3 separate regions of the Homo sapiens genome follow, and all the other regions are linked to region 1. Evidence: fine-mapped expression QTL. A gene starts in region 1. Each other region holds a variant in brackets. All regions are shown on one strand. Distances are between the middles of the regions. Region 1 holds the start of ABHD12B (abhydrolase domain containing 12B). Region 2 overlaps TRIM9 (tripartite motif containing 9). Region 3 overlaps ABHD12B (abhydrolase domain containing 12B).

Evidence for each region.
Region 2: its variant is fine-mapped to the expression of ABHD12B in cerebellum (GTEx, PIP above 0.99).
Region 3: its variant is fine-mapped to the expression of ABHD12B in substantia nigra (GTEx, PIP above 0.99).

What each region holds. Positions count from the first base shown.
Region 1 is chr14:50,868,604-50,876,786 of GRCh38, forward strand. ABHD12B (abhydrolase domain containing 12B) reads left to right here and starts at 3,450. Exons shown (of 13, transcript NM_001206673.2): 1 at 3,450-3,675. The coding sequence starts at 3,572. RefSeq lists a silencer at 6,933-6,982.
Region 2 is chr14:50,972,254-50,980,436 of GRCh38, forward strand. TRIM9 (tripartite motif containing 9) reads right to left here. Exons shown (of 13, transcript NM_001387360.1): 12 at 7,134-7,296; 13 at 3,013-5,100. The coding sequence ends at 5,038. Among named protein-coding and RNA genes, the nearest start is that of PYGL, 32 kb to the left of the region's middle. The variant C/T (reference allele first, on the strand shown) is at 4,997.
Region 3 is chr14:50,901,989-50,910,171 of GRCh38, forward strand. It overlaps ABHD12B (abhydrolase domain containing 12B), which reads left to right. Exons shown (of 13, transcript NM_001206673.2): 11 at 1,401-1,479; 12 at 2,086-2,204; 13 at 2,351-2,982. The coding sequence ends at 2,378. It overlaps PYGL (glycogen phosphorylase L), which reads right to left. Exons shown (of 20, transcript NM_002863.5): 17 at 7,907-8,114; 18 at 6,833-6,967; 19 at 6,283-6,349; 20 at 3,229-3,568. The coding sequence ends at 3,404. Among named protein-coding and RNA genes, the nearest start is that of ABHD12B, 34 kb to the left of the region's middle. The variant C/T (reference allele first, on the strand shown) is at 4,468.

The DNA.
Region 1 (8,183 bases):
ATCTCAACAATATTAGATTAAAAAAAATTCCTACCTGTGCACGGAAAGCTGAGAAAGGGTAAAAAAGGTACATGGTGCTTATGTTGGTGGGATTGTATAATGGGGTAGCCACTTTGGAAAACAATTTGGCAGTTCCTCAAAAAATTAAACATAGAGTTACCTATATGACCTAGCAATTTCACTCCTAGTTGTACAATAAAGAGATATGAAAACGTAAGTCCACACAAAAACTTGTATGCAAATATTTATAACAACATTATTTACAATAGACAAAAGGTAGAAACAACCCAAATGTCCACCAACTGATGAGTGGATAAGCACAATGTGGTATATCCATACAAAAAAATATTATTCAGCCACCAAAACGAATGAAGTATTCACTGAGATAGCACATGGATGAACCTTGAAAACACTATACTGAGTTAAAGAAGCCAGACACAAAATGCAACATATTGTTTAATTCATTTATATGAAATGTCCAGAATAGGCAAATGCACAGAGCCAGAAAGTAGATTAGTGATTGCTTAGGGCAGGTGAAGGGAGGAATGGTGAGTGCTAATGGGTATAGGATTTCTCTGGGGGGCTGTGATAAAAATGTTCTAAAGTTATTGTAAATAATAGTGATAGATGCACAACTCTGAGAATATACTAAAATTACTGAGTTGTATACTTTAAAATAGTGAATTTATAGTGTGTGAATTTTATGTCTCATAATGCTTTATTTAAAATAAAAGAAAACACAAGGGGGATGCATACTTTCTTTTCAAGATATCTAGGTCTTCAACACCCAACTGCCTTATTACCAGCAGTTTACCTTCACAGCTGTACAGCAGCTGAGAGGTGGTCAGTCTTATTCCCCATTCCCTGTTTTTCCAGAATAATTTTAGGTGGTCAAATTAATCTGTCTCCAATCAAGATTTATTTTTCTGCTAGTGCAAATAACATTCAACTGTTGGTTTCTGATGTATTTGTACCATCAGCTTTGTCTTAACATTTATACAACATGACATAGGACATGTTCATTTATATAGTTTATCTGTACATTTCTTAGGTCACTTTTCAAAAGTCAGGTTTGTTGAGGTATAATTCATATTCAGTCAAATTCACCTGTGAGTTATATGCATTGGTGGATATTTATAGTAACCACCACCACACTTGAGATGTTGACTATTCCCATCACTCTAAAATGTCCCTTCGCACCCCTTTGTAGTCAACCTCCCCTCCCCACCTCCAGCCCCTGCTATCCCCTGATTTAATCTCTACCCTTAAGACACTTTTCATTTCCTGTTCTGTGTTCTCATGGTTCATCCTGAAATGAATCTCTACCAGCTGGGATCCTGATTTGTATCCCTACGGTGCCCAATGTGGTACCTGGTACCTAAAAGGTGCTCAGTAAATGGGTGCTGAATAAATGAATGCATATTTTGTTTTTCAGGTTCTATCAAATCATATGGGAGACTTTGTTCCCTGATTTCCAGGATGTGCCATTTGAAAGGGGCTATTTATACTGGGAAAGACCTTCTTGCAGAGTCTTATGCAACCTTTCAAAAAATGGGCCATAGTGATTTCCAATTTCAGAGATTTTTGCTGAGCATTTCAAACATATCCCTAGACTTGGGGCTTACAACTTTGTTCATCCAGCAAGTAGATGGAAATATCCTCTCTCAACCTGAGCAAGTAGATGGAAATAGACTCTGGGACCATATGCAGCTGTTCTTCTCTCCTCCAAGCTCTCCTCCCCATCTTTGATCCCTCCATCTCCACTTGGCATGGCCCCAGAGTCCCATCCAGAGCTTCCCTGAACAAGTTCTGGGAGATTCCAGACCACGTTTATGAAGAACTCCAAGGGTAGAGCCGACATCTGCTTGAAGCTTTCTCATCATGCAGGTTGTGGCTCTGTGAAAACCCACCTGCTGCTGGCTCATCAGTCAGGCTTGGATCCCATTGGTCCTTTCTGAGCTAATTCCTCTTCTATCTTGATGTGTGTGAATCAGAAACTGAACATTCCAGCCAGGTGTGGTGACAGAGACCTGTAATCCCAGCACTTTGGGAGGCCGAAGTGGGAGAATTGCTTGAGGCCAGGAGTTTGATAGCAGCCTGGGCAACATAGTGAGATCTCATCTCTATACACACAAGCGTGCGTGCGCGCGCGCACCAGGCATAGTGGTGCATGCTTGTAGTCCCAGCTACTTGGGAGGCTGGAGTGGAAGGATTGCTTGAGTCCAGGAGTTCAAGTGAGTTCAAGTACAGTGAGCTATGATTGCACCACTGCACTCCAGCCTCAGTGACAGGGTAAGACCATGACAAGAAAGAAAGAAAGAAAGAAAGAAAGAAAGAAAGAAAGAAAGAAAGAAAGAAAGAAAGAAAGAAAGAAAGAAAGAGAAAGAAAGAAAGAAAGAAAGAAAGAAAGAAAGAAAGAAAGAAAGGAAGGAAGGAAAGAGAAAGAAACAAAGAAAACAAACATTCCCAGAGCAAGTATAAGAGTATTAACAGGCAGTGAACAAAATCCCCCTTTGCCCTGACAGTTCCATGAAATGAGCTAGTACTCAAAGAAAACTTCCCTTTCTTGAAAAGTGTGGGTATTTTCCCCCAGACCATCTTACTATCCTCAAGCAGATGGGTTTCCACGCACTTTCTGGTGCTGACAGCCCCCTGCTGTGCCCTCTGAACACAGACACTACAAAAAACCCATTTCACCTCTTAAGATTTGCACCTTGCCTCCAAGATGAAGCCTTGATGCTGGCATCCGAATGTATCCAAATAAAACCTAATTCCCTTTCTTCCTCCTTTGTCCCCACACATGCAGGCCGTGGCTTCCCTAGAGTAGCTCTGGTAGACAGTTCCTGCTCCTAGGAGACAGTTGCACAATGTAAACCTGCACCAAGATGTAAACCTGTACCAAGGTCAAAGTTTCAAGGTGTGAACTCCTTGGTACAATGATGAGGTTCTGCTACATGCTGCTACGTAAACAAAATACCGAAAAGGTCTTAATTTTTTGCTACATGGAGTAATTGTGTTCATAACCCCACGTGGACAGACAAATCATTAGTAAATCAAAGGGAGCCAAAGAAATTCTTTCTATAGTAAGGGTGACAGGGTGGGGGGCTGTGAGGATTTTGGGGGTGGATGGGGAATTGGAGACAAGGAGGCTTCAGAAAAAGAGAAAAAGAAAAAAGTGAGGTTTAAGTAGAGGAAAGCTTATATTCTTCATGAAAATCAAAAGCTGTGGCGGTCAAACTTTTGTGTTAGTAGTACCATGGTGAAAACATATTTTACTGCGTTGCGCGCGCCTCACACCCACACACACACAGAAGTATAATGGAAATCAATTTAAAATAAAATGTAGCATAGCTAGCTATAAGCTTAGGACATCTGTGTGTGTGTGTGTGGCCGCGAACAGCCTGACCCGGGCGGAGCGCACCCTCGGGCCGCGTCTCCCCCGCCGTACCAGCCTGCCTGACCGCGCGGAGGAGGAGGGCGGGCGCGGTGCCGCCGGGGCGGGAAGGTCGCGGGCGGCTGCTCCGGACTGCAGCTCCCGCGGCGGTGGCGGCGTATCGGGACACGGCGCGGGATGGACGCGCAGGACTGCCAGGCGGCCGCATCGCCCGAGCCGCCCGGGCCCCCAGCCCGTAGCTGCGTGGCCGCCTGGTGGGACATGGTCGACCGCAACCTGCGGTGAGTACCGCCCGGTCCACCCCTGGCCGGGCCCCGACGGCTCAGGCTGCGCGGGGATGGGGCAGGGGGCCAGGGCGCGGCCGAGGCCGCAATCCCCTCTGCTGGCCCGGGCCCAAGGCCCAGCATTGTGGCTTCCGGGGGACCTCGGCGGCCCCCTGAGAACTCTAGGGCTCTTTGGTTGCCCTTGCTATCCTCAGCCTCAATCCCAACCTGGACCAGCGAGACTCTCAGGTTTGGTATTTCAGGAAGTTATAACTTTTGGGGGCTTCTGAAATACAGATGCCAGGGAGATGGTTGAATTCCTACACCAATCTCTATTATCTGACCATTTTGCTAACATACAAGATGGATCTGAATGACATTAGTAATAGTGACAATAGTAATATATGTTGTAATCTTGGACGGGATCCTCTTAGGTCAAGGGCCTATCTGTGTAGGTGGAAAAGAATCAGAAAATCCGTGCCTAGTTCCCTGAGTGTGAACTCCCTGGCATGTATTTAAAGAAAACACCTCCAGTATGCTAAAGATGTACATAGTGTGTTGAAACCATAACTTGGCATTACCTGTGCCAAGTTCTTATGTTGTTTAAGTCTGAAATGTATCAGTGGGTGTTTCGGGTTTTGTTTCTGTTTTCTTCCTCCCATGGATCCTCGGTTTAAACAGTAATCTTAAATTACCTGAATCCACCTGCAACATATTGTCAGTCTTGTTTGCACTGAAGCCAGGTATTGGTTGGAGATCGTGGACCCAGGACACGTGGGTATTTCATTTAGTTTTGTTGGTGTGGGAAGGTATTGGCATTTTTACTTCCCTCTTTCTATTCCTTTTGTTTAATTTGTGCTGATTAGAAAATATCCAAAAATTACATCCAGACACAGGAGACCTCACTTTGGAGTGCCCAGAGTGATGATGACAAACGGGGATCTTTTCTCTCTCTCTCTCTCTTTTTTTTTTCTTTTTTGAGACAAGGGTTTCACTCTGTTGCCCAGGCTGGAGTGCAGTGGCACAATCTTGGCTCATTCCCAGGGCTCCAGCGATCCTCCCGTCTCAGCCTCCCCAGTAGCTGGGACTACAGGCACCTGCCACCACACTGAGCTGATTTTTGTATTTTGTGTAGATATGGGTTTTCACTACATTGTTCAGGTTGGTCTCAAACTCCTGGAGCTCACAGATTCCACCTGCCTTGGCACCCCAAAGTGTTGGGATTACAGGTGTGAGCCACTGCACCTGGTCTCTTTTCTCTTCTATTCCTTTTTATTCTCATTGCAGACAGCAGAGTGCTGGCAGCTCTGCAGGGGCCCAGTCACCTAGAACCCATGCCTCCCAGCTCTGGGTTGGATCTGAACACGTGGCAGAATGTCCTGATTGCACTTGTCAAACTGCATATTAACAGGACTTCTCTCCCAGATGTGGTGATTCTGGGAACGTTGACATCTAATGTTTTTCACTTTGATGGTCTCTGTGGAATTGATGGCTGATTATTTAACATTTATTTGGCAGTAAAGGGCATTTATTAGGCAGAGAATCAAAGTTGCACATCATACTCATAGAGAATAACCCACTTTGTTGATAATGGAGTGGGAGATAGGGAGTTGGGGACCATCTATTACTTGCCTTACTAATTAGTGAAAAAAGTCTCAAGAGACACTTCCTGAAAGAACAAAATACTAGCGTATGTCTTCATCTGAGCAGAAGATTATTGGCTACCATAAGATGTGCTGAGGCTGAGGCCCAGACCCATTTCCACTATCCCAAGTCCTCTTTGATTCTTGGAGCCGGGTTCACTTAGGTGAGCAAACCTTCATGGAGGGCTTGCCATGCCCCTGGCCCTGATCATGGCACTGGAACTAGTGGGATGTGTTGTGAGACCCAAGAACATTTCATCATATGATTTTTTCAGTGGCTATTTTTTAATGCCTTGGGAATCTAGTTATTTATTTTACAAAAATTTTTATCAAATCCAGTTGCTGCTTAAGGTGGGTGGGCCAAGGAGAGTAAGTCTCCACTTTACAACTGGTTTTCTTTAAATTAGAAAAATGAGGCCAGGCATTGTGGCTCACATCTGTAATCCCAGCACTTTGGGAAGCCAAGGCGGGCAGATCATGAGGTCAGGAGATGGAGACCATCCTGGCTAACACAGTGAAACCCTGTCTCTACTAAAAATACAAAAAATTAGCCAGGCGTGGTGGCACATGCCCGTAGTCCCAGCTACTCCGGAGGCTGAGGCAGGAGAATTGCTTGAACCTGGGAGGCGGAGGTTGGAGTGAGCCGAGATCGCACCACTGCACTCCAGCCTGGGTGACAGAGCGAGACTCCGTCTCAAAAAAAAATAATAATAAAAAAAGAAAAATGGAAAATGTGCTCCAGAAGGAAGTTGGGGGAAACCAAAGGTTTATTTTCCTCCTCATTTCCCCCATTCCACCCCAAGTCATTACAATCCTAGATAGTGCTCAGAAAATGTGCAGGAGTAGGCTGATAAATGTGTTCATTCTTTCCACAGCGTTGGTTCTTTATTATCTATTGGATAGTATTCTAGTCTTGGTCACACAGCAGTAAATAAAACAGACAAAATCCTTGCTCTGTGGAGCACACATTGATTCATTTGCAATTGTAAGTAAAAAAAAGAAAATGAAGTCCTTCCTCTTTCCTCTGAAGCTACCAATAAATGTTGCTTCCTTCTCCCTTACAAAATAAATGCACTCTCTTTCTATTTTCAACCTATGCGTCAATATTTACTGAGCTCAGCCCTGGGCTAGACAGAGGGAAATGTAAAGGAAGCATTCTATGCCATGTTGTTCTTGTTGTCTGTGGCCTGATAGAGTGGAGAAGACAGGGCTAATAATGGGAAAGCCATCACAGAACAATTCAAGGCCAGCTGAGGCCCCGTTATTATTTGTGGGAGGAAAGACAAGAGAGGAGAGGTCACCATGGAATGATCTCTCCAGGAGACTTTGACAAAAAAGAGATACTTCCATGGGTGTGAAGGAAGAGGGGATTTGGTTGGGAGGATGTCTCCCGGTGCTTGGTGACAAACACATGTCGACTGAGTGAATTGGCACACAGGTTGAAGGTACCTGTCTTAATATTTGAAATAGTAAATGTAGTTAGATTTGGGCTTCCCAAAGTTGGTTTGCAGAAACCTCTGAGCATGAGTGATTCACCCTGTAGCAGCTCAGACTCCACCAGCTTTCACCAGTAAGAATCATCCAGTTAGGTTCTGAGTCCCCTGTGGGACGCTGTGTGGTTACAGCTGCAGCTGATCAAAGGGCAAGTGAAAGAACACCAAAGCACCAAGGTGGCCGTTTGATGTGGCTGGCCGTTAGCGGGGATTGGGCTGAAACTGCATCCTCTGCTCAAATAAGGTCTATTAGCCACTGGTGACTTTTGATCCCTTACTGATCTAGGGGAAGTCAAATTGACAACCCCTTAGTTAAAAGAAGCTGCTTTGCATTATTGATGCTCTGAGGATCTGGTCACTCTGTTCTCTTCCCGCAGTGCATCTCAGAAAAGTGCCTCGAGCTATTTGAGAGAAGGACTGTGTATGAATTATTCCTTAAAAAACAGACACACATTTCCCTCTACTGCCTCTGCTTCCCAAGCAGACCTTCAAAACATAGCTTAGCGGGAGACTACCCTGCCTACCTTCAAAAGACAGCTTAGCTGGAGACTAACAGGCAGGGTGGAGGTGAGTGAGGGGAGCTTAGAAGGAAGCCAGCAGGAGCCAGCAGCTGGAAGGAGGCACAGTTCAGCCTTGGGTTCAGTTCTGTCCATTTGGGCTTGATCTGTGGCTCAAAGTGGCTTCTCTGGGTTTTGATTTCTTATCTCTAAAATCAGAACAACAATGTCCTCTCCTTCCTGCCGCCTTCATGGCAGGGGTGGTGGGGTGCTATTTTAAAGTATTATGAAACAATCATTTTCATTTCTTTCTTGCTGATTTTATGAGTAGGCAATTGCCAGCGTATGATGTATTCAAAAATCTATCCATTACCCTTAGCCCACATATCTTTTCCACTTCTTGCAGAACTGCTGGAAATTCATCAGAGATTCATTATCTTCTCTCTTCGTGCCTCTTCCAAACACATATAAGTGCTCTGATTTTTAAGTCATTAACACTTCAGGGGGAATTAATTTTTTTAGAGGTCTTTCTTTGATGACTTTGTTATCAGAGGGCTCCTGAGAATACAGGAGCAGGAAGGAGGAAAGAAGAAAGGACGGGACCCTGCTGAGAGGGCTAAGGTGCAGAAGGAGATCTTAAAACAAGATTGTCTATGAGCAGAATTTTGCCAGAGGCCAGCTTTGTTCCTGGGGTTCATTTCTGCTTACATGGATGTCACCAAGACTGTGACATCCTGGAGATCATTATAAGACTATGGGATCAGACAGACCTGGGTATGTGTGGCTCTGCCATTCATTGACTTGTGACCTTGGAAAGATTACTTAACTTTCCAGTCTCATTTGCAAAGCAAAGGTAATAATTATCTTCCAAAAATGCCTCTGGTCTAGCATAG
Region 2 (8,183 bases), 100 kb after region 1:
AGGTTTCTGTACATCTATTTAGGTGCTTTTGTTGTTCACTCATATTCAGTGCTCCAAATTCTGTGTTTATCCAAAAAATTGGTTCTTCAGATAAACACAACATTTAGGTCGCCTCAGTTGTATGTGATGTATTATGTCAGATCCACGCTTCCCTAAACATCAGCCTTAGTGGAAATAGCTAGCACATATTTTGAGAAATACATACAGGTGTCTTTAGTGTGTTCACATAAATCATAAGGTAGTGTGACCAGAGAATTTGTTTGTTTATTATAGTTCCATTGATTCATAATCAGAAATCTGGATTCAATAGCAAGCCCTCCTTTCTTCTCAGTGAGTTGAATAGATAGGCAAAAGATTAATGCCTACAGCAGAGGGAGGAATAAAGGGACCTCATTTCTAGAAAATAAAATGATTTCTTGCAAATCACTTATTCACTCCTATAAGGAAATATGAGGAATTACAAGTTCCATTAACTTCAGTACCACGAGAAGAGTAAAACATAAGCAATGCGTTCCATTAGGTAGTAAACAGAAGAGCAGAAAACCAGAACAGAGATGGGACCAACAGAGGAGGAAGAAAAAAGTAACATGGTAGTGGAAATGATGGCACCAGCGGCCCATCTGGAGCCACTGCTGCAAAGACTCTGGCTGCAGGGGGCAAGGTGAGCCTGGGGCTGTCTGCTCAACGGAGCCAGTAGGGGCCGGGAACAGGCGAGAGCCCTGCTCCCTACTGAGTTGGCAGGGCCAAAGCCCCAAAATCCCAGGCGCAGCTGCGGCAGCCCAGCCATAACTCTGGACTTGGGCATCCCTGCGCTCTTGGGGGCCTGGGAAGCTCCCCTCCCCCCGTAGGCTCAGAAGTACCTGCTCCCGCTCCTTGGCCTCTCCCTGCTCCTGGTGCCCCCTCCAGGGTGGAGCAAAGTTGTGGTCAAGCCTGGGCGCTGTCGGAAACCCCCCAGGTGTGTGTGTGCTTGGGACAGCACTGTCACACCAGCCTTCTGCCACCTCAGCCCCCTCTGGACTTTGGGTGCTGATGAGCATGGGAGGGAGGCCGAGGTGGAGCCGAAGATAGCCCAGTGCAGGCCTGCAGGCACCCCTCAGCACAAACATCCTCGGTACTGTGGAAGGCATGTTGATGGTGGCAGGAGGAAGTCATGCTCCTGGACAGAAAAGGGCAGGTCCCTGGTGAAACCCCTACCTTCAAGCCAGGGATGGCCTGAAGCCTGGGGGCCAGGCTGCCAGTTCTGGGGTGAGTCCGTGGCCCAGAGTGAGAACTGATGATGCTGTTTCCAGGCCCATCCATGCCTGCCTATGGATCATTCAGTACACACTTCCTTCCTTCTGAGCCCATGAAAACCCTGTGCTCAGCCAGACGTCGACACTACCAGCTGCAGGAAGGAGTTACCCACTCTGGGTCTCCTCTCTGCTGGGGTCTGCACAGACATCAAGGTGACCTGTCTGTGGAGGGAGCTACCCACTTCAGGTCTCCTGAGAGCTGTTCTGTCACTCAATGAAGCTCCTCTCTGCCTTGCTCACCCTCCAGTTGTGCAGGTACCTCACTCTTCCTGGATACAGGACAAGAACTTGGGACCTGCTGAATGGTGGGACTGAAAGAGCTGTAACACAAACAGGGCTGAAACCCTCAGCCACCACCCTCAGCTCACCATGTTGCAGGTGATGAGAAGGAGAGAAGAGCTGTGGCCCTTCTGGGAGCCCATACCTAGGGGCTCCTGGAGCCAGGGCTGTGACACCCTCTTTGGGGCTCTGTGGTTCCTGGTATCTCCAAGCTTCCGGGTGCCACCACATACCCTTCAGCCAGATGCATGTTCCTGTAGTGGAAGCTGTGTGCAGTACATCTGGTCCAGCCATAGCCTCTTACAGAGCCAACAACTTTGCTGGTGCCTGGAGCTGCCTGCCCTGCCACAGCAGCTGGCCTGCCTGGCTGTGTGCAGTGGCCAGACCCAGAGCTCACTTGCCCACACACCCCTTGCCACTCCACACCTGACTCACCCTTAGCAGGTGTGGGATCCAGGCTGGTAGTGTGAGCCGAGTGCAGCCTGCCAGGCCGAGTGGGCAGAATGAGCCCAGTAGGTGCAGGCAGTACTCAGGCAGAAGGCGCTGCCAGCCACAGAGGTTTTTGGCTGGAGAAGTGACACCCCAAGGATCCCGTGACAGAAAGAGGAATGTGTAGAAACTGGAATCAACGGAGAGCAGCAGCAGCTACCAACTGTGTACTATTCCACTCTGTGAGGTTATAACTCAGACCATATATTTGTAGGTAATGTTTTTCCTTTAATCAAGAAACAAAGTGTTTTTTTAGTGGCTAACAACAATGTTAGGTAGATGAATAATGTTGTAATTATTGTTTTGCCATTCAAAGAAATGTTAAAGGAGCTAGGTTTGAAAAAGTCAGTGACACTCTGTTTTGCAGTACTATAAAATTGCAAGCCAAATGTGTGGCTTTTTAAAAATAAAGTAGGCCAGGCTCACGCCTGTAATCCCAGCACTTTGGGAGGCCGAGACGGGTGGATCACAAGGTCAAGAGATCAAGACCATCCTGGCCAACATGGTGAAACCCCGTCTCTAATAAAAATACAAAAAAATTAGCTGGGCGTGGTGGTGTGTGCCTGTAGTCCCAGCTACCCGGGAGGCTGAGGCAGGAGAATTGCTTGAACCCAGGAGGGGAGATTGCACTGGGCCAACATTGCGCCACTGCACTCCAGCCTGGTGACAGAGTGAGATTCCGTCTAAAAAAAAAAAAAAAAAACAGAAGTAAATCCCCAATACTTGGAAGCAGACCCCAGACATCTCCACTGGACATTTCACATCAGGTTAAATTTCATATGAGTAAAACCAAAAGGCAGTGCCACATGCCCAAGGAAACAGGGGAAAGAACACATGCTCTCCAGAGCTCTGGGGGCCTTTCCAATGAGATCTTCCTGAAGAAACATCGCTCTGACAAAGGTGAATTGTCATCCGCAATAGATAAAAACTAAGAAATTCTAGAGACATTTTATTCTCTCATAAAAATCATTTATTGGCACATCAGAAATGACAATTTTTTCTAGTATAGTAGTTGTATGCATCTGTAATTGCAATTCAGTGTAAACTACATGTTACAAGTCACTAGAAATCTAATTAGCAGGATGAATTTAATAAAGAACAAGAGGAACTATGAGTCTACCACGGCCCAGCCATTGAGTCTCATTGGAGAGTAAATCAAATATCAAACTAGTGTTGCCCTGCAACAGTTTTTCTGTAGCCAAGAAAAACCAAGACACACATAAACAGGATAGCACCCATTCCATAAATTAGGTACACTTAACTAGAAAAAGATTGTAACTGATAGAAATAATCTAAATAAAGTAAGCACAAAAGTAAATAATTAGCTATTTACATATATTCCTTTTTGCCAAAACTTTAATTTGTTAGCTTTCCCATCCTATCTCTTCCCTTCTATTTGTTATTCTTGTTTTTTCATGGTGAATTTCTTGGCTCACTGAAAAATATTTAGACAACTAATTAGAACTTCTTTCCGGGTCCTACCTTTCCTAAAACTTTATGACAAACTAATGAATTTCAAGGGTAACCTATGTAAGTCTATCTCTATATAGAAGTAAGATGCATTATTATTCTGCTATCAGTCATAGTAATGACATACAGTCCCATGTTTTTCCAAACATTGTTTGGACTACTCCAGAAAATTAGGCTGTGAATGGCAGCAGAGTGGATGGATTTTTCATTCATAACAGGCACAGATAGTATATATGGAGACAAGCATGTTTATCCTGAGAATGTGAATGCTGTGGACTGCAACTCAAGATCTCCCATTACTGAGAATGGGTCCTTTGCCCTCTGGTCACTCTTTTTTTTTTCAACTGTCAATTTTTAAGGCGTGGTATCATAGCAGCATCAGCAAATAAGAATGCTGACATCATTTCTACCAAGAAGGGCTCTGTGATGAGTGGCAGCAGGTACCATAATTAAATAGTGCAGCTGAAAAGGCATTGAGTTGGTACATTTCTGGTGCTATGGCCAGAATGTGTGGATTTTTAGCATCATTCTAGGAAGCCTGAAAGATCTTGCCCATGAGTCTCTTTGACCCTTGCCCATTTCCTTTCTAGTACATATGACCATTTATAATTATTTTATTTTTGCTTTTTCTCCTACTGGAATATAAGCTCCGAAGGGCAGAGACCATGCCTGTCTGTTCACCACTGTGTCCCCACAGTGTCTAGAACATAATGTTCTAGTGTCTTGAACAGTGCCTGGTCAATAGTAGGTTCTCAATTAAAAGCTTTTATTAAATAAACGAACCAAATCATTAAGTCCCCTGGTTTGCCTGTGTCTTAGAGACTTTCCAATTTTATACAGTGGCCAGGGTTCTGGCCTATCCTAATTATAGAGCCATCCTAACGATCCTACCCTGATGTGAACCTGTGTAGCGGATATTTTTGTGCTTCAATGAGTAGTAAAACTTCTCAGTGATAGATTCATTCTCCCAAAGCTTAGCTCTGCAGAGCTAACGCTACAGGAGAGGTAAGAGGGTAAGAACATTCTAGCAGGTAAGCTGTATGCTACAAATTCAGCTCATTCTTCCCTACCTCCCCCTACAACCTCATTGTTTGACAGAAAGCTTAAGAAAAAAAGTTAGCAGGAGAATTTTCTCCTGGCGGTGCCAGTCCAGTAAGTCACCAATAACCTGATCAGAAAAGAAAGAAAATATAACTCACCTACATAAAAAATTAAGTTAAATAAAAGCAAAATCTGGGAGTGGGAACCAAGTGACTTGGTGGGCTGTCTAGGTCCTTTGTTGGTTAGAATTGTTGGACATGGAAGCGGAAGCAGGCATGACAGCGGAGGAGAGGTTGAAAGGGAAAAGGGCAGAGCTGTGGGTGTAAAGACTGCAGAGGACCAGCTTTTCTCTCCTCCTTCTCCCACTCCTGCCAACTCTGCACCCCACCACGGCTGGCTGAGCTCCTTGCTGTGGCTCTCGCAGG[C/T]GGAGGTAAGAACAGGCAGCTGGCGCCTCCACGGCACATCCTTAGGCTATTGATGCTCTGCTGGAGTAGAAGTCGGGGACTGGGAGCCCGGTGTGCAGCGTGACCTGGGGAATGAGACTGTGAGTCCTGAGAGGCATCGTGCATCCCCCTGTCCCTTTACACAGTGTACCGTGGGTGTGTCCCTAACTCAAAAAGTGTTCTGTTTGCTTCGCTTTAAACATCTAGGCTAGCAGGCATTAAACGGAATTCAAGAAGAATCCTGCCTATGGTAACAGGCTGCTCACCATGGTGGGCTCTCAAATCCTGGTGACATTTGATTATATGGTTCTTAGTCACCTGCCTCTTTTAAAGGATTCCGGGGAGATTGTGTTCCTTATAACTGAAGACACAGGCCTTGGTTTTCAGATAGAGGAGCCTACTGGCCACACCACAGTGACCACTGCCAAATCCATGGATAGAGGACAGATTCGCAGAGACAGCACTTCCCTTATTACTTGTCCACTAGTTATTGTAATTAGGGCAAACATTTCTTTCTGGGGTCGCATAGATGATTGCCAGTTGTGAAAAAACATGGCATTATACTATTTTACCAATTTCCGTGTATCCCCAAACCTCAATGGATAGCTATGGATAAAACTAGAACCATTTCATGCAGTTCTTATCCCTGTCTTCTCCAGCCCAAGAGTCTTTATCAATAGATAATCAGAAGGTCCTGAAAACCCCTGAAGAGCATCTAGTATAATATTCTTTGAAAGGGAAATGGCTAATGTGAAAAACCTTGAATGGGGTTTTTCTGAGACTCGCTTCTAGGGTAATTTATGGTTTTCTTTCTTAAAGTGTAGAGGCTGAACTCTGAAAGATTAGATTCCAGCCTTCTAGAAAACCCCATCTCCTTGCAGGGAGAAGGGCAGGGGCTGCTAGTTTGCAATCAATGTTACTGCACATACTGAAACACAACAATGAATTTTGATAAATAGTTTCCAAGGCTGGTTCTGGATAGGGCAAAAGTCACCTGTAATTCTCAAGCCTTATCTCAAGACAACCATTTGTGGAATGAGGCTCATAGTTGTTAATGAGATGCCCAGCTCAGGAGGGAAGTGAAACCCTAAGTCCTGACAGCGGCTGGCAGGGCACAGCTCTTCCCCCATGCATGGCTCTGGTCCCCCTTCCAGGCCCCAGCCCAAGAGTCTCTCCACCATTCCTTGCCCATGCAAGGCCCCTCATGCCTTAGAAACTGTGCACAGGCTGTTCCCTCTGTCTGGAAGGCTCCACGCAACTCACTCCCTCACTCCTTTAAGGCTCAGCTCACCGGTAACTGCGATAAGCCCTACCTACGCAATACTGTGGCTGCCCTTCCCAACCACACCACTCATGGGCCCTTGGTCTTTTCTCCACTGCACTAAACACCTTCTGACACACCATCTGATTAACATTGTAATTATGCTTATTATTTATTGTCTGTCTCCTATCACTAAGATGTAAGTTCTATGAAGGCAAGATTTTTATCTGTTTTTTTGTTTTTTTTTTTCACTGATGTATCCCAGACACTTATAACTGTGCCTGGCACATTAAAGGCATTCTATAGATATTTGCTGAATGAATAAATGAGAAGCTGTTGTTTTATTCTATAATAAATAATAATTGACTAAGTTGTAGGTAGGGACTATGTTTTCTACCCCTTAGGACCTAACAGAGCCAAACAAGAGTGCAGAGAAGATGCTCAGATTTTCTGATAATGATACTAATGCTTCAGTCTTACACCCTCACCTCTTCTCAGGCACTCCTGAGCTTTGTTAAGTCATTCTATTTGTTTTCATGCCAGTTGGTTAAAGGCTTTCGTTTCTATTTAGAGGTGAAACTAGAGCTACAGAGATGATCATTAGCCAACCATGAAGAGAATTCTAGTTTCCTATGTGCTATTAACTAGTCTGCGTCCAAGTATAAAGAAGGTGCTTATGCTTGGCGTGGAATAAAATAAGTTGCCAGTGCTGATCCCTTTCTCTCCTCCTCTCCTTCATATCTTGGTCTGGGCCTTACGCTGTCAGCTTCCCTCTCTTCGGTTGGATTGAACGGCCCTGGGCAGCCTTTGAACCGGTAGCCAGCAACAGCTGTTTAACCTCAGGGGCAGGGTGCTTACCTGCACGTTCCTGTTCAGGCTGACCGCAGGGAAGAAGAGGCCCTCCACGTTATCAAATGCTATGGGACCTTGTTGTTCATCGTTGATAAAAAATGTCAAGTTTTTTCTATTTAAGTCGAGGAGGACCCCAATTGTGGCCCCTTTTGTGATCCCTCCCTCAGTTCTGTAGGAAAAGAGAAAAATTGGGGTTCATTTCCTTGTGGTCACTCTAGAAGCTCCCCCCTTTTGTGTGGTGAAACCAGTGTCTTGCAACCTGTTTATAATCATCACTACCCCAAAACCGTTTCCCTAATCATCCCTTGCACATAAATTTTAATACCGCAGATATACTGTATACCTGTTGGTACTGTGTGTATATCTGTGTTTTATACATAACAAGAGTATGATTTTTTGCTCCCTCCCTGCCACCATCAATTTTCACTTCCTAGGGGGAGATATCTGCCCTTGTGAGTTGCTCTGCTGTTGCTGAGAGTGAACTCATTCATTAGGGTCTCTACCACTGAGTCACAGCAGTAGAAAACCAAACATTAAAGACTAGGAAAAAGTCGCCTTTGGGCTATCAGAGCTCTGACTCTAGGAATATTGCACACTTTGTATAAATGGTGTGAATTAAATATCATTAAATACAAAGTGACTTAATTTGAAAGTCAAAATAAGAAGCACTTTTGTTGCACCTAAACCACATGCATGAGAAATTGGATTTGGGGCCTTATGTTATCCATTAAACAGAAAAACTCATTCCAGAAGGATAGCAGTTTTTTGGCTTGTTGCATTTGAATTAAGAACTTGGAGGCTGTCTGTGAAATGACAGCACTGAAGAAGAGGCTTCTTCTCTGTACAGTGAAATAATTATACTCTGAGATGTAGTGATTTTAAAGAACCTGCATACAAATGCCATTTTACAAAGAATTGTGTCTTATGCTTCAATTGATGGTTTCACAAAATGCCATTAAAAATGGACGATCAGATTTGTCTTTCCCATTTTTTTGAGATCTAGCAATATTGAACTTCGTCCTCATCTCAGCAGAGCACAGGAATTTGTGTCATTCA
Region 3 (8,183 bases), 33 kb after region 1:
ATGGTGACATGAGACATCCTGAATATCATTCTTATTCTTAGAATATTGTTCTGCGCTTCTTAGATGGGCACTAAGATTTGGGTAAAGTATCTATGAATTTTTAGTATTTGCTATTTTCCTCATGTCTAATTCAATGACTTCACCAATTCAGTACTCTCTCTGAATTCATAAACGAAGTTGTATATCTATAGCCTATCAAGACCTTTTAAAGGGCTTGGTAGTGTTAGCGTATGCCTATAATCCTAGCACTTTGGGAGGCTGAAGTGAGAGGATAGCTTGAGCCCAGAAGTTTGAAACCAGCCCGGGCAACACAGGGAGACACCATCTCTACCAAAAAATTTTAAAATTAGCCAGGCGTGGGGGCACGTGCCTGTCATCCCAACTACACGTGAGGCTGAAGTAGGAGGATCACTTGAGCCTGGGAGGTTGAGGTTGCAGTCAACTGTGATTGTGCCACTGCACTCCAGCCTGTGTGACAGAGTGACATCCTGTAAAACAAACAAACAAACAAAAAACCAGCCTAACATTTCTTGAGGCATCTCTGACTTCTAGGCCCTTTTCCCCATATAATGAAAACTCGTCTACCATCCACCTTACTAATGTGACAGCAAATCCAATGACTAGAATTTATCAAGTTAGCCTGTTACAGTTAGAGAATTTAAGAATGCTTCCAAATAGACAGTTGTCAATATATTTTTCTATGTCAACACACTTGAGAAAATCCAACATTCTCAGGGGTGTCAGTGAGTCACTGTGGCAGAGATGGATGGGTATCAGAATTTTGGGGGGACAGGGAAGCATTGCTTGAGAAAGTAACTAGAGTGGGAGACAAGACATTCTTCATGCCATAGCCCTTTTGAATTAGCAAACTAGGGGGTTGACCAGGAAGCTAATCAGACCTGTTAACTGCACGTCCATCCTCTACATTTATGGAGAAAAGTAAACAAATTGCTACAAAGAGGTCTCTGATTCTGTCATAGTTTTTGTTTTATTGAGGTTTTGAGTTTTGTTTTCTTTTTTAGTCTTTTAATAAAATATTTCAGATGTTACAAAATAGGTGGAGTAAAGAAGAATATAAGGTTCTTCTAACACTGTACAAAATCAGTGTTTCAGTGTTTTTTGTTTTTTTTTTTTAGTATTTCCAAAAATCATGCAGAAGTAAATTAATTAAACAGCCAGTTAAATTGCATGAGTAAATGGGAGAGAGGGAAACTTGCATGGAGAAAAAAAGCTACTATGTGAAATTTTTAAATGTATGATATTGTTATTCCTTGGAAGGAAGGAAAGAAATTTCTTGTAATTTAGACAGGCCTCATGTTTTGCTAAAGCTTTAACTTAGAAGAGGAGAAATCTCAATGTATCATTCTTTAACTGAATGCTTTTCTTCTACTTGTCCCTAGTGTTAAATTCCTTTCTTCTCCTCTTCTCATCTTACATGGAGAGGATGACAGGACAGTGCCTTTGGAGTATGGGAAAAAGGTAAACTAAGGGCTCAATGCTGACTGAAATATACTATACTCATTTCACCATTTTTTTCATTCAGCCAAACTTTGATTAGAGCCGAAAGGAGGGTCTCTGACATTATAGGAGATTCTCTACACCCCTAAATAGCCTCTATAGGTTTATAAAATGGGTATCAGCATCCTTGGCTACTTAGCTCAAAGGAGTGTTTGTGGCAGAGCCTGGCTCCTCATCTGGATTGTGTGGAGCTGCAAGTGTAGGGTATCCCAGGCTGCTGTGGGAACCTCCATGTCGTCTCTACTGTAGTGGCTCTAAAATGGAAGACGCAGACTTTTTCCTTTTAAACAAACTTCTACTAGAGTGGGTCCATAACAATTCCTTGGCATTTTGCAGGGAGGTTCAAGCAGGGAAGGATGAGGTTTTATCAGTATTCTATATTAGCTGAGCAGCATTCAGATCTTTAGCTGTAGAGACAGGCAACTGGGACATGGAGAGTTTTCTGTCTCTGACTTAATGGAACAAACTCCCCAAGTTAGCTGTTTCTGTACACTTTTAGGGAAATTGGACTAGAAAAATCTACAGCTTTGAATGGCCATCCTTTGAGTCTCTTTCTGTCGCTTGCAGCTCTATGAAATTGCACGCAATGCATACAGGAACAAAGAGAGGGTCAAGATGGTTATCTTTCCTCCTGGCTTCCAACACAACCTGCTTTGTAAAAGCCCCACACTGTTAATAACCGTGAGGTAAGAGTTGCTTTGCTAAATGTATGTTGCCCTTCAAGGCAATTAGGGCTGCTCTGGCTTACTTAGGCCACAACATGAAAATGTATAATATTTTGCTTATTTAGGTAGGGAAAGGGTGTGAGCTGATCTGGGTCCTTTTTCTACAGAGATTTCCTGAGCAAGCAGTGGTCATGAGTCTGGGAGGAGTGGAAATCTTCAATGAAGACTTGGCCCAAACACCACCTGTGATGTATATTGTTCTAATGTAAAATTGTACTGGGCTGGTCGGATGAGCTGAGGCCATTGACTTCTCTACAAATCACTTGCCATTTTAACAACAGAAAGTACGAATGTTAGGCAGTATGGAATGTTCTTATTTAGCTTATCATAATCTACTTTGTAAAACATGCTGAAACCTCACTGTGGAGAACCAGAATTTGGTAAAATCTAGATCCTATCTAAAAATATGTAGTTATTAAACATTCTGTGGATATTTGTGAATAAGGTAGTTGCTATGGTCCGAATATCTGGGCCTGCCCCCCCAAATTATGCTGAAACCTAATCACCAGTGTGATGGTAATAGGAGGTGGGACTGAGCTCTGATGAATGAGATTAGTGCCCTTATAAATTATGACCAAAAGAGCTCTTCACTCCTCCTACCATTTGAGGATACAGTGAGAAGCCTTCATCTATGAACCACAAAGTAGCCCTCATCAGACACTGAATCAGCCAGTGCCTTGCTCTTGGACTTCCCAGCCCCCAGAACTGTGAGAAATAAATTTCTGTTGTTTATAAGCTACCCAGTTTATGCCATTTTGTTTTAGTGGCCCACAGGGACTAAGACATTGGTCTTTGGTTTGGACTCAGATAGCAGTGTAAGAAAGTTGCTTCTACATAGTTAAGTTTTTTGTATTTTAGTTTAGTTCATTTAAATGGCATTTGAAAGTTCTAAGCAGTTTTCTAATTTTATGACTAGTTTTGGGGTAAATCCTAGCAGTAGCAAAGCATCACTAGATTTGCTATAAAATAAGTTTTGGCACTCATGTAGCCCTTGGAAATTGACACTTTATTTTTAAGCTCTATTACATATAATTTCCCTCCCCATTCCCAGAGATACTCAACTATTATAGATTATTAGCTAACAAAACAAAAACCAGTGAATGTTGTAAAAATGTTCAAGTTCAGTAAGAAGCTATGTTTTCTAGAGACAATTCTAGAGTTCAATTTCCATTGACTTTGTTAGATTCATTGGATAGAGAAATCTTTAGATCTGAAGGTTCCACGTTCCAGATGTTTTGGGCATATTCTTTAATTGTTCGGTCACTGGAGAATTTCCCCGAGGCAGCTATGTTTTTGAGTACCATTGTGTTCCAGGCCTTTGGATTCTGTAAACAACATATGCATATACAGCCCAGAGTCCCAGTGCGCAGTGAGCTTTATAATAAACATCAGCCAAGCACATCCAAACACATTTCATGAGGGAAAATGACAGGAATAAATTATAGTAAATTACAAATATTCTTGTTTGTCTGTTGAGAGGTAGAATAGAATGCACTTTTCTCATATTTAGAGTATAATTCTCTTAGGAATGAAAAAAAGGTATTTTTCACTCTAAGAGAAACCATGGATGTACATTGCCTAGTTGGCAATTCCTGCTATGGTTACAATGTTTTGGCATGTAAGCCATATTTCCCATGCTTTCTTATGAATGAAGATGCTTCCCTTTAAACTATAGGGGAGGAATCCATTGTCTGCTAAATGCCATGTCAAGAGACTTATCCTATGGCTCATAGAGTTTGAAAAACACTACTCTAAAATGTTAGCTATAATGCAGGCAAACAATTCAATGAGAGGCTTTATTGACCTACTTAGCTTTTCTTGTTCTTTCTGAAGATACGCACCCTAGTAGGCTTACACTGAGTCCCAAACACTCCACTGGGGCTTCAAAACAGGGTCAATTGAGTCTTTATCCTTAATAAAAATATATCAAAATCTCATAATTTTTATATAAAAGAATATGATAAGAAGGAATTTATTTTATAGCCTCTTAATTTTGTAAGGAACTCTAAAAGTGTATTGGAAGTGAACAGAACATTATTCAAAAATGTTATCAATGCATTATAAATGCTTACGAGAAAGACTAAAACTACCATCATTCCTTAAGGTACAGCAAAACAGCATCTGAAATTTGTTTATTCAGACTTTGGAAGCTTCCTGTAATAAGAGGAGGATAAAAGCTTTCTCTCTTCATTTTCTTTAACTATTTAAATGGATAATGAATAGA[C/T]TTCCCAGTCATATGGGTCATGTTTACTAAGTCTCAACAATACAATCATTGTTAAGAGTAAAAAGCTGCAATTAGCACTAATGAACAAGAAAGACCGAATCAAATGCTGGGTTTCTAGATGAGCATCGTTTGGATTTGGGCCATAATTTTAACAGAGGAGACATTCACATTTGTCCTTGCCCTTGTTCATATTTTTCTTTCCTGTGCTGTTTTATTGATCTGTCTTGAGGTGGCCGTTCTCTTCCCTGTGTCTTTGCATTCTTGCGGCCTGTATATGGCTTTTCTCTCCAATGTACAGGAAGCAGGTAGTGAGCCCCTGAGCTTAGCTCTAGCACTGCCCTGCTTGTTTGTAGCCATTAACTTGAACTTATTCTGGTCTATATGCCACTGGGGGACTGGCCATTATTCTATTAGAAGATAAGGGCTGTAAAGCAGCACAGGCGTTGAATGATCCTTTTTAAAATCCCAGTGGGACATTTAGGATGACAGTAGGAACTACCCTTTTATCTGCCTTGGGAAAGGAGTAGAAAGAAATGTTAGTAAAACCCACCCTGGAGTCTTGGCACAGAGCTAGCCCCCTCCAGTATCCATTCCTCTAGGGTATCTGAAATTCACTAAAAGTCTCTCCTATCAGAGATGATCAACCTTTTTACATATTTACAAAACACAGCTAGAGAGTTGTTTGATAAAGCGTATAACTTTGCATGCAGAGGCTTATTCACATGGCTCTACCCATCCCTTTTTTTTCCCCTCAGTATAGTATTGTCTTCCTTATTCTTCTTTCTTTTTTTAAAAATTCAATTATGAACACCTTTCTCTTTCTACGAATTTATATTCTATTGATACAGCCCCCTCCATGAGAAGTCCAGAAGAGGTACCTATTTTGCAATTTTCAGAGAATAGGGGTCAGTCCTTATCTTAAAAAACCATGTTTTAGCCTTAGAATCATCATGGCAGGTTTCTCAAATACTGATGACCCCACCCATTACTGGGAAAGAATCTCTCAGTGCGGGGGCTGGCATCTGTACTATGATGAAGCTACCTTGGTGATTCTGATGTGTACCTCTGGTTAAGAATCTCGATGTTCAAACAGGCTCCTTGAGGGAGGGGAGGGAGGGAGAGACCTCAACTTTGCTCATGCTGTGTTCTCAGTGCCAGCACAGTGCCCGGCATAAAAAAGACGCCTAATGCCCCTCTGAGGCTTTATTTCCTTAGCTTCCAGGACATGTCTGCTACAGAGTGGGTGCTCAAAAAATATTGAATTATTTGTGACTTTTAAAAAACTTGGATATTAAAAAATTTACAACTGGCTGGGCATGGTGGCTCACACCTGTAATCCCAGCACTTTGGGAGGCAGAGGCGGGTGAATCACCTGAGGTCAGGAGTTCTAGACCAGCCTGGCCAACACGGTGAAACTCCATCTCCACTAAAAATACAAAAATTAGCTAAGTGTGGTGGCACGTGCCTATAATCCCAGCTACTTGGGAGGCCGAGAGGTGAAGGTTGCAGTGAGTCAGGATCACGCCGCTGCACTCCCGTCTGAGTGACAGAGCGAGATCTGTCTCAAAAAAAAAAAAAAAAAAAAATTACAACTCCTGCTGAAATGTCAAATCTCAACCTTGGCCTGAACTTGGGAAAAGACAAGGTTTTTTTTTTTGTTGTGGTTGTTTGTTTGTTTTTGTTGTTTTTTTTTTGATTGCTTAATGGGGATCTGATATTACATGGGGATCTGATATTTGCATTTAATTAAAAAACCCACATTTTAATGAATCATAGTAAACTGGTTTTCTTTATAAATCTTGGCAATTTACTCACCATGTACAGCTGACTCACTTTATCTTGACACTTGACATAGGCTTCGTAGTCTGCAAAGACTTTAAACCTTTTATTTTGTGAGTGGAAGAGGAAAAAAACAGTCAAAATCTTCATTAATAGATATATGCTAAAATTCCATGTAAAATCATCTTTTGCTTAATATCAGGCATGGCTGGTTTACCAAATTCATATTTCTGTTTGTAAGACTTTTAACCAGCCCTCAACCTTCTTATGGTTCTCACATGTGAGAATGTCATCACTGGGATGCATTTGGAAGTTGGGAATATCAGTGGAAGGAGAAAAAGAGAACCAGATTTGTGTGTGTTATTCTTAAACCTTACTGGCATCGCTGGTGGAGAATATCTAACTTTTTCCCCAAGCCTAAACTACCTGAGCAGATCACGCTAATCTATGCTAATCTACATGAGTGGGTTTAAGTTGGTTTAAGATTGGTTTAAGATTTTCTTGTTGGTTTTAGAGTTGGTTGGTTTAAGATTTTCTTGTCCCCCTTTCATGATCCAAATAGCACCATCTTCTTATGGGAACTCACCTGTCATGATAAAATAGCATGTTGATGATATCTTTGAAGAGGTCAGGCTGCTTGGGAGAAAAAAAGCCATTGTCAATTTGATCAATGACCAGCTTCAGCTCTGGAAGTGCCTCATAGTATTCTTTTGCCTCGTACCTGTGGGGTAGGGGTGGGTGGGTGATAAAAAAAGGCTCTGTTATTGTGTTGTGTGATTAACAACACACTAGACACTGCATTCACTGTGAAAAAATACATTCAGAAATACTAGCATTCAAAGACTTCATTATAGATTTCACCATGAGTATATATAACTTTTAACTAGATCTGTAAGTTTTTCTTCCTGTAAATTTGATTCCTTATAACCAAAGACACTAAGAACAATAGATAATGAAAACTCTAGTCAAACATCAAGAGTCTGATGTGGTAGAATACAGCAAGGTCCATTTCAAAGCAGACTTTATGGCTTTAAATGAACATTGTATTAAGTAGATCAGTTGCTTTTTGGATCCACAGATTCTCAAAAGTTGTTGCTACTGAGTGAAACTGACTTCCAAGGGTCAGGAAGTATATTCAACATCCTCCAAATGTTACTTCTTTGGGCAGTACTCTTTATTTTGTGCTTGAACTCAGGTTAATAAACCCATCCAGATATGAAGTGAAAATAAATGTTTCCAATTACTTCTGTACACCCGTATCTATTCTCTATCACATTTTAGTGCATTTCTTTGATATCTTAAAGGAGCACTAGATCATGATTTAAATTATAGGCAACCCTTCCAACTAGAAACTGGTTCATCTTTTGATCAAAGTAAAAATCATACATACGGAGGAAAAATAGCTCTTTGAGGCCAGCTCTGCAATGGCCGATAACAAATAGCAACTCCTCCATGTGTCTGTACTTTTATTTGCTGGGTTTAATAATATTAATCTGTGGCCAGGAGGCTCTCCTGCCTCATCGTGGGAGATGTTCTGCTGCCACCTCTTATGTGATCCAATTTCAGTGGGATATCGGTGTGGGCAGGAAGCCCTCTGAGGTCACATACCTTCTAGGGGGGAGGGGCAGTCCTGCCTAGCAAAGAGAAGCTATTCTCTTACCCTTTCTTGTCCAAAGCAGCCACATCATCTATCCTCATGCCAAAGATGAACAGGTTCTCTTCCCCAGCTTCTTCTGCCATTTCCACATTGGCCCCATCCATGGTCCCGATAGTTAGGGCCCCATTTAGCATGAACTTCATATTGCCTGTCCCCGAGGCTTCGGTGCCTGCAGTGGAAATCTGCTCTGACAGATCTGTGGCTGGAATGACTGCAAGAAAGGTAAGTTAAAATTAGTAATTTTGTCTGTCTAGATCTGCTTGTATTGTATTGAAGCATT